Regions from separate parts of the Homo sapiens genome. Here all the other regions are linked to region 2. The links come from fine-mapping of genetic effects on gene expression. A gene starts in region 2. Each other region holds a variant in brackets. All regions are shown on one strand. Distances are from middle to middle.

Region 1 (4,227 bases), 59 kb before region 2:
ATTATTGATATGTGAATTTATACTTCTAATAATTAATGCTTCTGGATTTAATGAGTTAAATTAAAACAGTTGAAGAAGCAGGATCATGGAGTAAATAATTTGGTAGAAATTTATTTATCTGTTATTTAAGAGAATTTTTCAAAAATGATATAAAGTTCATGATTGTAATTCAGATTTTATCACTTAGAATTTTCTAATGTGGATAAAGGCCCTGGAAAAGTTTTTCTTTAGGTAATATATGTCCTTACACACAACAGAAATTAACACTTAAAATAAAATTAAAAAGTATCAGTTACTTAAGAGAACCATCCTTTTATCAAAAAACTCTCCATATCTGGAAGACTCTATAAATCCTATAAATATCAATAAAAAATTTAAGCAAGATGCCTAAAAACTCTACCAAGGCTATATATATGTGGTATGTGGTGTATGTGGGGGGTGTGTGTGTGTGTGTGTGTATTTTTTTTTTTTTTTTTTTTAGAGATGGAGTCTCTCTATTGCCCAGGTTGGAGGGCAGTGGCACAATCTCAGCTCACTGCAACCTCCACCTCCCGGGTTCAAGTGATTCTCCTGCTTCAGCCTCCCGAGTAGCTGGGATTACAGGTGTGTGCCACCATGCCCAGCTATTTTTGTATTTTTAGTAGAGTCGGGGTTTTACCATGTTGGCCAGGCTAGTCTCGAACTCCTGACCTCAGCTGATCCACCCACCTCGGCCTCCCAAAGTGCTGGGATTACAGGCGTGAGCCACCGCGCCCAGCCTACCAAGGCTACATTTTCATAATCTTTCCTTAATAATTCATTACAATCTCAAGTAATTTACTTTTATATATATTTCCTAATGTGGAATCACCTTAACCTTTCTGTCATTTTCTGGTAAAAATAAAAACTCAAAAAAGATGACGTTCAGAATTTAAGTCACACTGAAATAATTTAGTATATTTAGGCCTGTAATTTCAGTTGTAAATTAAAAGTAATTTTCATTTTAAATGTTTTTTAAATCCTTTAAAGTAATATTTTAAAAGTATTTAAATAACTAGCTAGAAGTATAAGATATGATTCATTTAAAATGTTAACATTCAACTGGCTAGCAAAAGAAATAATAATTTCAAATTATATATGTTTTCTAAGTCAATTCTCATTCTCAGAGAAAACCAAACTTCCTTAAAAGCTTAACTATCATTTTGGTCTTACTGTGATCAATGTGGTCAATCTTGTGACATCACTGTTGGGAAACCTGCAATAGGAAAACAAGAATTAGCAATCAGCTGAAGCATACTTAAGAAATTTCAGAAACTAAAAAGTTTGTTTAAAATTTGTGTCTTTCTTCATGCTGTAAGTCATATTGAAATTAACCTACGGTATCAGGGTCCATATAATCAGTATGACAAAAATAAGCATAAAAGGACTGGAGTTTATTTATAGATCATTATTTATTATAGTATGGCAGATCATGTTTTTGTTTATAATCACCAACACCCTAGGGTGAACATAACATATTAAAAAACAAGCTGTAGGACATTTGGGTTACAAGTTTTATTTGTCTTCAAATTACGTACTCAGAAGAGAAAAACAATGTCTTAAATACGTCACAAACTGAAGACAATTAGGTATTATTTATAAATACTTTTCTGTCTATGATTATCAGTACAGATTAGAACCAAAATGTCATCTACTTAATACTGGAGACATTACCACATGCTAATATTTATGAATAGCGACAAAATTATCAAAAGATTGAAAATATCACTGGGAAGAATTTAGAACAGGAAAAAACTATTTCCTAAACTGTAAATGGCTTCAAGTTTATCCCTGTGAAATCTTAATTTTTGGAATTTTTTGTTGTTTTTTCGAGACAGAGTCTCAATCTCACCCAGGCTGGAGTGCAGTGGCGCGATCGTGGCTCACTGCAACCTCTGCCTCTTGGGTTCAAGC[G/A]ATTTTTGTGCCTCAGCCTCCTGTGCAGATGGGACTACAAGTGTGCACCACCACACCCAGCTAACTTTTTGTATTTTTTGTAGAGACAGTGTTTCGCTATGTTGGCCAGCCTGTTCTCAAACTCCTGGCCTCAAGTGATCCACCTACTTTGACCTCCCAAAGTGCTGGGATTACAGGCATGAGCCACCGGACCTAGCCTGGAAATTTCTTTATTAACAAGGTCTAATTTGAGATGAGCCCTTAAATGTTTAGTATCAAAAAGTAACACATGGTTATGGCATTTTAAGGTTCATAATGGACTTTCATGTATTATTTTATCAGGTCCTCATAACGAATCCTTCAAAGGGGCAGGAAAGAGATATTCCTTATTATAGACTCCAGGAAAACAGAATTTAGAAATGATACATGACTTGTCTAAGCACAAAGAACTGAATTTTTCCTGGTTTCTCTTTTACCTCAGACCTTTCACCTAGTCTGTCCTACCAACTACTCTTCGTCACTCTATCCTTAATTTTACCTTACTACTTCATGATTACTGGCTCTCCTATGTTACCATTATAGCCTCCCTACTTCTATTCTTTTTTTTTTTTTTTCCCTGCCTCAGCCTCCTGAGTAGCTGGGGACTACAGGTGTGTGTCACTACACCTGGCTAATTAATTTTTTTTTTTTTTTTTTGAGATACGGGGTCTCACCATGTTGCCCAGGCTGGTCTCAAACTCCCGGTCTCAAGTACCTACCTCTGTTCTTAAAGCAAGTTAATCAGATCACATCATTCCCTTACTCAAAATTGTACAATGGCTTTAGCAGCTCTTAGAATAAAACCCACAATACTTATTATCATGACCTCTTAGGCCCTCTGTTACCTGGTGCCCTGACTGCATTTCCTGCTTCTACCATGTTCCAGTCACAATCACCCTTTTGATAATCCCCAAACATATCAAATTTGTTCCACTTCAGGGCCTTGACACTTGCTCTTCCCTCTGCCTGGAGCAATTGTTCTCCATATCTTCATAGGACTGGTTTTCTCACTTCAATCGGGTCTCATAACAAACGCCACCTCCTTAGAGAGGCCTTCCTTTACCACCAGAGGCTGCTGTTAGCTTTAACTCCATGAAGGAAGATCACTGGAGCACAAGTTTAGTACCTGGAACCCAATAGCTAATTAGCTACTGAATGAATGAGTGAACAAGTATTTATCAAGTTCCTACTGCATCCAGCATTATGTCAAGAGCTACAAAGGATCCAAAAGAAAGTTTAAATAAAAACTCTTCAAGAATTACTATCTATTTAAAGAAAATATGCCATAACAACTTGGTATACGTTTTTAAGTCACTGCAAGAAGCATTTGGGAAGCTTAAAAAAAAAAGCAAGGCAGGGGGTGATGGGAAAGCGCGGGTAGTGAATTAAAGGTGTATGATAATGAGGGTCTGGATAGTGAAGAAGAGGAAATGCAGAGGGAATGGGAAACCCAAATCTTAAATGGTGAAACCAGAAGGCTTCATGCTAAACTAAGTATTAGGAACAAGGATAGCAAAAAAGTGAAAGATTACTTCAAAGATTCTCACTCACATAATGAAAGAAATCTGAAGTGGCAGGGTGGGGTGACTTTTATTTAGAACAATAGGACAGGCCAGTGTCACCATAGGCCATTCAAATGAAGACGCTTCCCACCAGCAGGTAGAAATTTATTTATTTATTTATTTATTTTTTGAGATGGAATTTTGCTCTTGTTGCCCAGGCTGGAGTGCAATGGCGCGATCTCAGCTCACCGCAACCTCCACCTCCCAGGTTCAAGCAATTCTCCCGCCTCAGCCTTCCGAGTAGCTGGGATTACAGGCATGCGCCACCATGCCTGGCTAATTTTTTTTGTATTTTTAGTAGAGACGGGGTTTCTCCCTGTTGGTCAGGCTGGTCTTGAACTCCTGACCTCAGGTGATCCGCCTACCTCGGCCTCCCAAAGTGCTGAGATTACAGGCGTGAGCCACTGTGCCCGGCTCCAGCAGGTAGAAATTTAGAAGAGTTCAAGATTTGAAAATCAGTTATATAAAAGTACAGTTCAAGCCAAGACTGTGGGCAAGTTCACCAAGGGAATATGAAGAAAAAAACAGAACAGCCAGCATAATTTGGCAGAGACCTATAAGTAGGGCCCATGGGAAATAAGAGAAGTGGAATTGCAGGGTTTTTTGTTTTGTTTAAGTTCAAGAAGTAGAGACATAGAAAATACAATGAATAAAGGCACATGAAGAAAGATTTCCAAAGAGGAAAACATGTTGAACAGTTTTAGAGGGGTAAAAG
Region 2 (4,227 bases):
GTAAATGGTACTACAATTCGGCACTAGTTTAACATGTGAGAACAGTGAAGCTACTATTATCTGGATTTTAAAATATGTACCCATTCCTGTTTCTCTCCAACCATTATAAGAACACAATATTAAGTTCTCATAAATAACTTTGTATTTTTAAAGCATACAATCTGATTTTCTAAAAAAAAAAAAAAAAAAGACTCTTCATCATCGTAGGCTTAAAATAATTTTAAATTCAACCACTTGTTTCAAATACTTGTAAAAATTACTTTTTTCTATCTGAACCATACGAGTGTCTTAATGTTGTCCAAATTACTGATTATGCAGCAGAGTGACAATAATATGTACAGTGTTTACAATAGGTGTGAGACATCAAATGTACTTAACTACCATTTTCTTAAACTGCTTATCCTCTGTTGCTTGCCATTTATAATCTGCCAAATCTTCTAGTCCTTTGTTGCATGTATAATTTAGAACCATCTGTTCTATGTGCTTTTAACTATTTAAACATTTTTCACCTACCTACAATTCACATAAATGGCAGACACTCAACTCAGTCAAGCTTTCTATATAGCATATTACATGAAGCAAATTCCTGGATAAATAGATAACACCAAAGAAGACTGCTACAGAAATAAAAACTTACCATATAGAACATAAATTTCTGTGTGTTACACAAACCTTTTCAATGTATTCAGAATTGTTTCTATTAGCTTTTTTTAAGTTAATTGTAGTCAGTGTTTTTCCCTCAACCCAGAAGACAAAGAGAATGCAAATTAAATACAGACAGTTTCATGTCCTTGTTAGAAGAGATGTAAATATGCTGACTGAAAATGACTACAGGAGACAGAATTCCACTTTCCCATTCAATATACAGTGCCTCTTATTTATATACTAGTCAGTGTATCATTAAGCTTGGTCATGTGACCAAACCAACTTTTGTGAGGCGAAAAACTATGTTAGACAAGCAAATTAAAACAGTGCTAGTTTTTGTTTATCTGTTCATAATGGCTGACAAAGAGTTTATAGCTAGCGATTATAAAATAACTTTTAAAATCAATTCTGCCTCTTAAATACTCAATAATTGTTTGACTTAATATCTGCTACTAAATTTTAAAGTATCCATTATCTTAAGGTATTTTCCATAGTCATTTCTTTTCAAAATGTAAATAAATAATAGAAAAAGAAAACCCCAGAACATTTTATTAGAAACGGGGAGCCAGATAATCTAAAATAACCATACATAAATATTAACCAAGCTAATTTTCAAAAAATCCATAAGGGAGAGTGGAGCAAATAAGAAAGGGAATATACTGACTACAGATAACAGTTGAAACCTTTAAATTAAAAAAAAAAGTACACAAAAACCAGATAAATAACAAATGACGCACAAGTTTTTTACCATTTTTTGCATATAATCTTCCACCTGTTACCAAAACATACAATACGCAGACTTCGTATACTGATTTTGAGAGCAAAACACAAAAATAAGCCACACAACTTATCAGTAACCTGTAAGTTACACAATCCTATAAAACAGGAGAAAAATTAAGCAAAAAATTTACTCTTGGGAAAATTTCTCCGTAAAGTTTACATGACGTCACTGGGCCCCCTGAACATTCCCTAAACTTTGAGACTTATCCAGACACACTTCCTAATACTTCTTTCCTTTCCTCAAAAATAAAAAAGAGAGAGACTTGGGAATAAAATTGCCCAAGATGGCGAAACGCTTGTTGTTTAGAGGGCAGGAAAAAAAATGGAGGATATTGTAATATACACAAAGGGATAAATTTCAACAACTCGGCCAAGGACTGCAGCTGCTTCCCTCTTTATAAGGAAGCAACAGACAAAAGATAAATACAGAGGGAGAAAGAAAAGAAGAGAAAATCTCCCAAACAACAGAGCCAGCTCTGACTCTTCAAACACTTCCTTCCCCTTCTCAAATCCCAATTCTGGGGTTCGTGAAACTACTTAAAGGGGAGGGAGCCGCGAAAGAGAACGGGGGCTGGGGGGAGGGGTAGCGACAAGAAGATTAAAAGAGGGAAGCAGAGGAGTTGGGAGCTGGCGGTCGTTCCCGGGGAAGAACTGCTAAAACATGAGACCAAGGCACAGACCTTACTGTATGAGAAGCAATGCTCCTCAAACCTTCTGCGTGCTGACATAGACCTTCCCAGGTATCCAGATCTTTTCCCAATCCCACCTGCCCCACCCCCACCCCCGCTCATCTTCAGTAAACTCAGAGCCTCCAGCTACACACGGGAGAGCTAGAGGCCCAAGCCGGGGAGTGGGGGTGGCAGACGCAGCTCGTCAGTCCGACAGGGAAGAGGGGGCGGAGGCAAAAAAGGGCAGCAGGAGGCGGACGGGGGTGGGGGGTGATCCAGAAACTACCCCGGCAGGGAGTGGGGGAGCAGCGGATATTCCGGGGTAGGAACGGCCATCGCAACGCTGACAGAGGTTGTTTTTTAAGAAGCAAAACTGTTGGCGGCGACCTGAGCGCTGGAAGCCGAAGGGGAAGAGGAAGGAGACGCGAAGCCAGGGCGGCCGGCACAAAGGCGGCGGACTCGCGGCGGCAGCGCCTGCCCGGCCGGGAGCACAACCCACGGCCCTACTCCAGCGAAGTCCCGCACCGGCTTCTAGGAATAAAGTTTACGTTCTCCTGAGGCCGCACCCCCCACCTCCCACCCAGGACGGCACATCTCCGTGTCCTCCTCCCCCAAACTCCACTCGGGACCCCGAGAACCACCCCAGCCTTCCGGCCACCACAACAAAGAGCCGCACCGACCGGCGAGGATAAACAGCGGCGGAGGGCGAGAGGGCGGCGGGGCGAGCGCCTCCACGCAGCAACTCCGGAGTCCCCCGCTTGCCCGAGCGCAGTTTCTCCGCTGCTGTTTCCACCGGCTTTGTAACACTGGGAATTTACATCCTCACCCGCACCCCTCACGCCCGAGGATTTTAAACTCACCTTTACTCTCGAACTGAGAGTTGCGGTAGATGGGATTTTTGCCTTTTCCCCAGATGGTTGAAGGTTAAGATTTTTGGAAACCCCACCACCTCCTTATTTCTATTATTATTTCTGCAAGAAAAGTATAAAGAGAGTTGTAGTGGAGGTGAGATTTGTGATCGGGAAAGCCTTCGACTCCCTCCTTCTCCGTCTTCCGCCTCTCTCTCTCTGATTAGTTCCTATCCAGCAGCAGATTGAAGCAGGAGATGATTCTTCTCAAGGTTTGTTCAGCAGCTTCACTTCTAGGCGAAGGCTTCATGAACCAAGTGACGTCAACCAACAAGGCTTCTCTCTCTCTCCTCTCTCTAACAATGAAAGTTGCTGTTAACAAGGGAAAAAAAGAGAGAGAATTGTTTATACCATTTCAGTTCCAATAATAAATGACCTATCAGCTCCTAAAGGAGCCAAGGGAGGGGGTTGCTTCTTCTTTCCAAGAATACTGTAGCTTTGAGTTTGCACCGTTCCTTGTCCCAGGAAAAAGTTAAGAAACTTAAAATGTTTTGTTTTGCTTTTAAAGAAGACAGGACAGAAAACGGGATTTAAAACTTAGTTTTTAAAAAAACAAAAGCTACAGAGTAGGGAGCATAGGTCAACCATCTCCACCTAAATTTTTTTTGTTCCTAAACTCAGAATTCTACAACCCAACTAAATTAATATGCCAAGATTTTGCGGATGTTAAAACTCAAAAAAAGCAGTATGCAAGACGGTCCCGGGGTAAAATTCTACTGCCTTTCCACGGACAAGTTAAACTGGCTGTAATGTTTATGCACTAAGTTAAAATAAAATTTAAATAAAAGACGTTAAAATAGTCGTTTTAAAGTTATATGCACACACTGTAAAAGGTAATCTCGATAGCTTTTTTTCAAGTTTCTGAGAGATTAGAAAAAAAGCATAGCAAATTGTAGGCACTGAACACTTTTTAAAAATCAAGTTATGAGTAAGACTGGTAGCCCTTTGCTCCTTTAAACTACAAATGCAGTCATATGCTATGGTCTACCCCCAGAATCTCTTCCAACTTTGTTTTTACCCTTCCACTCCCCCAACCCCAATTCCCAAATCCTGCAACCAATCAAGTTAAACTAAAGATACAATAGGCCCCATTCCCTCCCGCACCCCATCCTATAGATTCCTAAAAACAATTTTTTTAAAAGCCTTAATCTTGATAACACTTTATTAGCCAAGAAGATACGTATTTTTTTTTTTAGAAGTTCGTTGAGGTACCGTTTTTTCCCTCC
Region 3 (4,227 bases), 21 kb before region 2:
CTGTCTCTCTCTCAACTCTCACCCACTCACTTTGGTGGAAGCAAGCTGCCATGTCAGACACAGCACCATGGAAATGACCATGTGATCAAGAACTAAGTCCTCCCACCAACAGAACAGGGACAAGGAAAAAAGGCGTGCCAAGAACTATATGAGCTTGGAAGCAGATCTTCTAGCCCCAGTTGAGCCTTGCAATGACTGCTGCCCCAACTGACAGCGTGACAGCCACCTCTTGAGAGATCTTAAGCCAAAACCACCTAACTAAGCCACTACGAGATTCCTGAACTACAGAAACTCCAATAACAAATATGTTTTACCCTGTTAAGTTTTGAAATATTTACTAAACAGAATTAGATAAATTGATAAAGTATCTTATTCATCTCTTTATTCCCTCTCACCCCAACACTGAGTTCCTTGCCTGGAGAAGATACTTAGCAAATAAATGATGAAGCAAAGCCTTAAGATTTGTGATGCAGTTTGGCCAAAACTCATGCCAAATGGGCTTACTCTACTGCTAAGGGAAACAAAAATTTAAGCCCCCAACTCCATATGAAAACTAAAGTAATAAAAAGAAAATACATGTTCACTTAATAAAACATATGATATGCTAATCTGTACCATCAGAGAACAAAGAGTATGTCCAAAATCTATATTTCCACCTTTAAATCTATCATTATTTTCCTCAGTGATCATGCAAACTTTGACCAAATCTCTGTATTTTATCTTTGTAGAATCTGGAATGTACTTCTATGTATTCCATCAGTTGAAATCTTACCCCTCTTAGGATAATGTTCCTGCGAGGAAAAATTATGGAAGACTTTAACAAAGGGAAAAAAAAGATTATGTCCTATCTAGGGCATCATACCAAGTTATCTGTCCCTTTCACTATCCTTTTTGTTTTGGGGGTTGTTTTTTGTGGTAAAATACACATACCAGTAGTCCCCACTTATCCACATTTTCACTGTGAGGCTTCAGTTACGAGCAGTTGGCCAACGTCCAAAAATATTAAAATGAAAATTTTAGGAATCAACAATTCACAAGTTTTAAATTGTGTGCCATTTTGAGTGGCATGATGAAATTTCATGCCTTCCCCCTCAAACCTGCCTGGGACACAAATCATCCCTTTGTCCAGCATATCTACTCTATAAACGCTACCTGCCTGTTAGTCACCTAATAGTTGTCTAGTTATTAGATTGACAAAACATAGTCATCCACTGGGGGTTAGGCAGCATCCACTGAGTGTCTTGGAACGTATCTCCTCGGGGACAAGGCAGGGACTACTGTAATATAAAATTTGCCATTTTTGCCAGTTTTTTAAAAAGCCTACATTCTCCTATCCAAGTACTAACCAGGCCTGTCCCTGCTTTGTTTTAGAAATTAGAGATCGAGCACATACTTTAACCATTTTTAAGTGTACAATTAGCTGGCATTAAGTTCATTCACAATACTGTGCAACCTCCACCACTATCCATTTCCAGGCCTTTCAATTCTCTTTGAACTAAATTCTCAGACAATAAAAACACTGAACTTCTAATATTCTGCATGTGCATTAAAAAACAAAAAGTCGGCCGGGCGCGGTGGCTCACTCCTGTAATCCCAGCACTTTGGGAGGCCGAGGCGGGCGGCCTACCTTGTGGTCAGGGGATCGAGACCATACTGGCTAACACGGTGAAACCCCGTCTCTACTAAAAATACAAAAAAATCAGCCAGGCGTGGTAGCGGGAGCCTGTAGTCCCAGCTACTCCGGAGGCTAAGGCAGGAGAATGGCATGAACCCGGGAGGCGGAGCTTGCAGTGAGCTGAGATCGCGCCACCGCGCTCCAGCCTGGGCAACAGAGCGAGACTCCGTCTCAAAAAAAAAAAGTAATTAGAAAAACTAAGTATTTTAGTTTTTAATCTTAAGAACCCAAGTTTACAAAAGAAAGGTAAATCTTTGGCAAATGGGACTAATTTAATACATTCTAATTTTAAAAATTTATGGCTTTAACCAATCGGACAAGCTAGCATTAATCCTTAAAGTTTACAACATGAAACAGATAAATTCT[C/T]ATGTTCAAGTAAATTGAGTCATTATTTTGACAGTTTTTTTTTTTTTCTTGACATGTAATCTTGTTTTGTTGCCCAGGATGGAGTGCAGTGGCGTGATTATGGCTTGCTGCAGCCTCCGCCTCACAGGCTCCAGGGATCCTCCCAGCTCAGTCTCCCAAGCGGCTGGGACTACAGGCGCGTGCCAACATACCCAGTGAATTTTTTGTAGTTTTTGTAGAGACAGGGCTTCACCATGTTGCCCAGGCTGGTCTCAAACTCCTAAGCTCAAGCTGTTTGCCTGCCTTAGCCTCCCAAAGTGCTGGGATTACAGGCCCAAGCCACCGGGCATGGCCCAACAAATTTTTATTTCAACAGTAAGTATATTTTGCAGCATGGCAGCTTGAAGATAATTTTCAAATCTTTAGGTAGCCTAAAACCTTGGACTGATATTAAATAATTATTCAATGCGTAATAACTTCTAAGCAAAATACTGAAACATTGATTACTATGCATCCTTTTAAACATATACTTTTTTTTTTTTAAACGGAGTTTTGCTCTTGTTGCCCAGGCTGGAGTGCAATGGCATGACCTCGGCTCACCGCAACCTCCGCCTCCTGGGTTCAAGCGATTCTCCTGCCTCATCCTCCTGAGTAGCTGGGATCACAGGCATGCACCACCACACCTGGCTAATTTTGTATTTTTAGTAGAGATGGGGTTTCTCCATGTTGGTCAGGCTGGTCTCAAACTCCTGATCTCAGGTGATCTGCCCACCTCGGCCTCCCAAAGTGCTGGGATTACAGGCTAAACATACACTTTTGTTTCTTGTTTTTATATACTAATGACAAGCTGTTTTAGGTCATGTTAGTGGAAATGTCAATTTTTGCCACTTTAAGAGGCGAAAAAGAGGTATGCGTGCTGTAAAAAGTGGTGTTGTGTGTGCTCATGAATTCTACTAGTCTGCTAAAATGCTGGTATATGACACAGTTCTCAATTATTCACCTCCAACTTTTCTCTGTAAAACAGAAATTAGTCACTTCGACTAAAAGTTACAATTAATATGATTCATTGAAATCTGTTATGTAAGTTTAGCCTAAAGCTGCCTCTTTACATATTTTAAATTCAACCTAGAGGCTTCTCTGTACATTCTGAACTATATCTAACAAGCGGAGGTACTATCAGTCCATAGCCCACTCTTGTGCCAATCACCCAGTTTTGGCATATCAAATGTGGCCAACTGTTCCAACTGTGTTTAACTAAGGCAAATACCAAGCTGTAACCAATCCAGCTATTTCTGTACCTCACTTATGTTTTCTGTATGTCACTTCCTTTTTCTGTCCATAAATCTTCTTCCACCACTTGGCTACGCTGGAGTCTCTGAGCTTACTCTGGCTTGGGAGGCTGCTTGATTCGTGAATTTTCTTTGCTCAATTAAACACTTTAAATAAATTTGGCTGAAGTCTTTCTTTTAACAGACTATACCAGGAGCAACAATGACATGGAATCACAGCTCGGTATGTGCATTTATTTTAAAGGAAAAGGAGTAGTATTGTCCTAAAGAACGGATTCTTGTGCATTTTGGTCTCCTGGCCTCTTTACACTCTTAGGACTTGTTGAAGACTCCAAAAGAGTTTTCATTGTACATAGGTTGTAAGTCTTGATGTTTACCATATTGGAAATTAAGACTCAGAACTATTTTAAGCGCTTATTTACTGTTTCATTTGAAGACAACAATGATTAATATATTGCATTTTAGCAAATTTTAGTATTTTTATAAAAATATGCGTGACACCACAGATCCTGTTAGAAGCACGGCCCTAAAGTTTGTTCAAGAATATAAAAGACAATGAAGGACCTAACCTAGAAAGTAAATTTGTCTTGATTTATAGCAGCTAACATAGAAAAGAAGCTACCAAACATTTTATTTTTGTTTTTTCTCCATTTATTTATTTTTTTCTATCTTTTAATTTTTTATTTCCATAGGGCATTGGGGAACAGGTGAGGTTTGGTTACAAGAGTGGTGATCTGTGAGATTTTGGTGCACCCAACACCTGAGCAGTATACACTGCATACAATTTGTAATCTTTTATCCCTCAGCCCCACTTCCTACCCTTTCCCCCTGAATCCCCAAAGTCCACTGTGTCATTCTTATGCCTTTGCATCCTCGTATCATAACTTAGCTCCCACTTATGAGTGAGAACATACGATG

What was found. PIP is the estimated chance that this variant, and not a neighbour inherited with it, causes the effect.
Region 1: its variant is the best candidate, but not a certain one, in a credible set for the expression of BAZ2B-AS1 in whole blood (INTERVAL, PIP 0.51).
Region 3: its variant is the best candidate, but not a certain one, in a credible set for the expression of BAZ2B-AS1 in whole blood (TOPMed, PIP 0.76).

The regions. Positions count from the first base shown.
Region 1 is chr2:159,554,632-159,558,858 of GRCh38, forward strand. It overlaps BAZ2B (bromodomain adjacent to zinc finger domain 2B), which reads right to left. Exons shown (of 37, transcript NM_013450.4): 2 at 1,192-1,234. Among named protein-coding and RNA genes, the nearest start is that of BAZ2B-AS1, 59 kb to the right of the region's middle. The variant G/A (reference allele first, on the strand shown) is at 1,933.
Region 2 is chr2:159,613,289-159,617,515 of GRCh38, forward strand. It overlaps BAZ2B-AS1 (BAZ2B antisense RNA 1), which reads left to right and starts at 2,006. Exons shown (of 2, transcript NR_110588.1): 1 at 2,006-2,165; 2 at 2,462-4,227. BAZ2B (bromodomain adjacent to zinc finger domain 2B) reads right to left here and starts at 3,260. Exons shown (of 37, transcript NM_013450.4): 1 at 2,954-3,260. RefSeq lists enhancers at 1,211-1,739, 2,796-3,322, 2,950-3,029, 3,280-3,349.
Region 3 is chr2:159,592,559-159,596,785 of GRCh38, forward strand. The region is part of intron 1 of BAZ2B (bromodomain adjacent to zinc finger domain 2B); the gene reads right to left. Among named protein-coding and RNA genes, the nearest start is that of BAZ2B-AS1, 21 kb to the right of the region's middle. The variant C/T (reference allele first, on the strand shown) is at 2,042.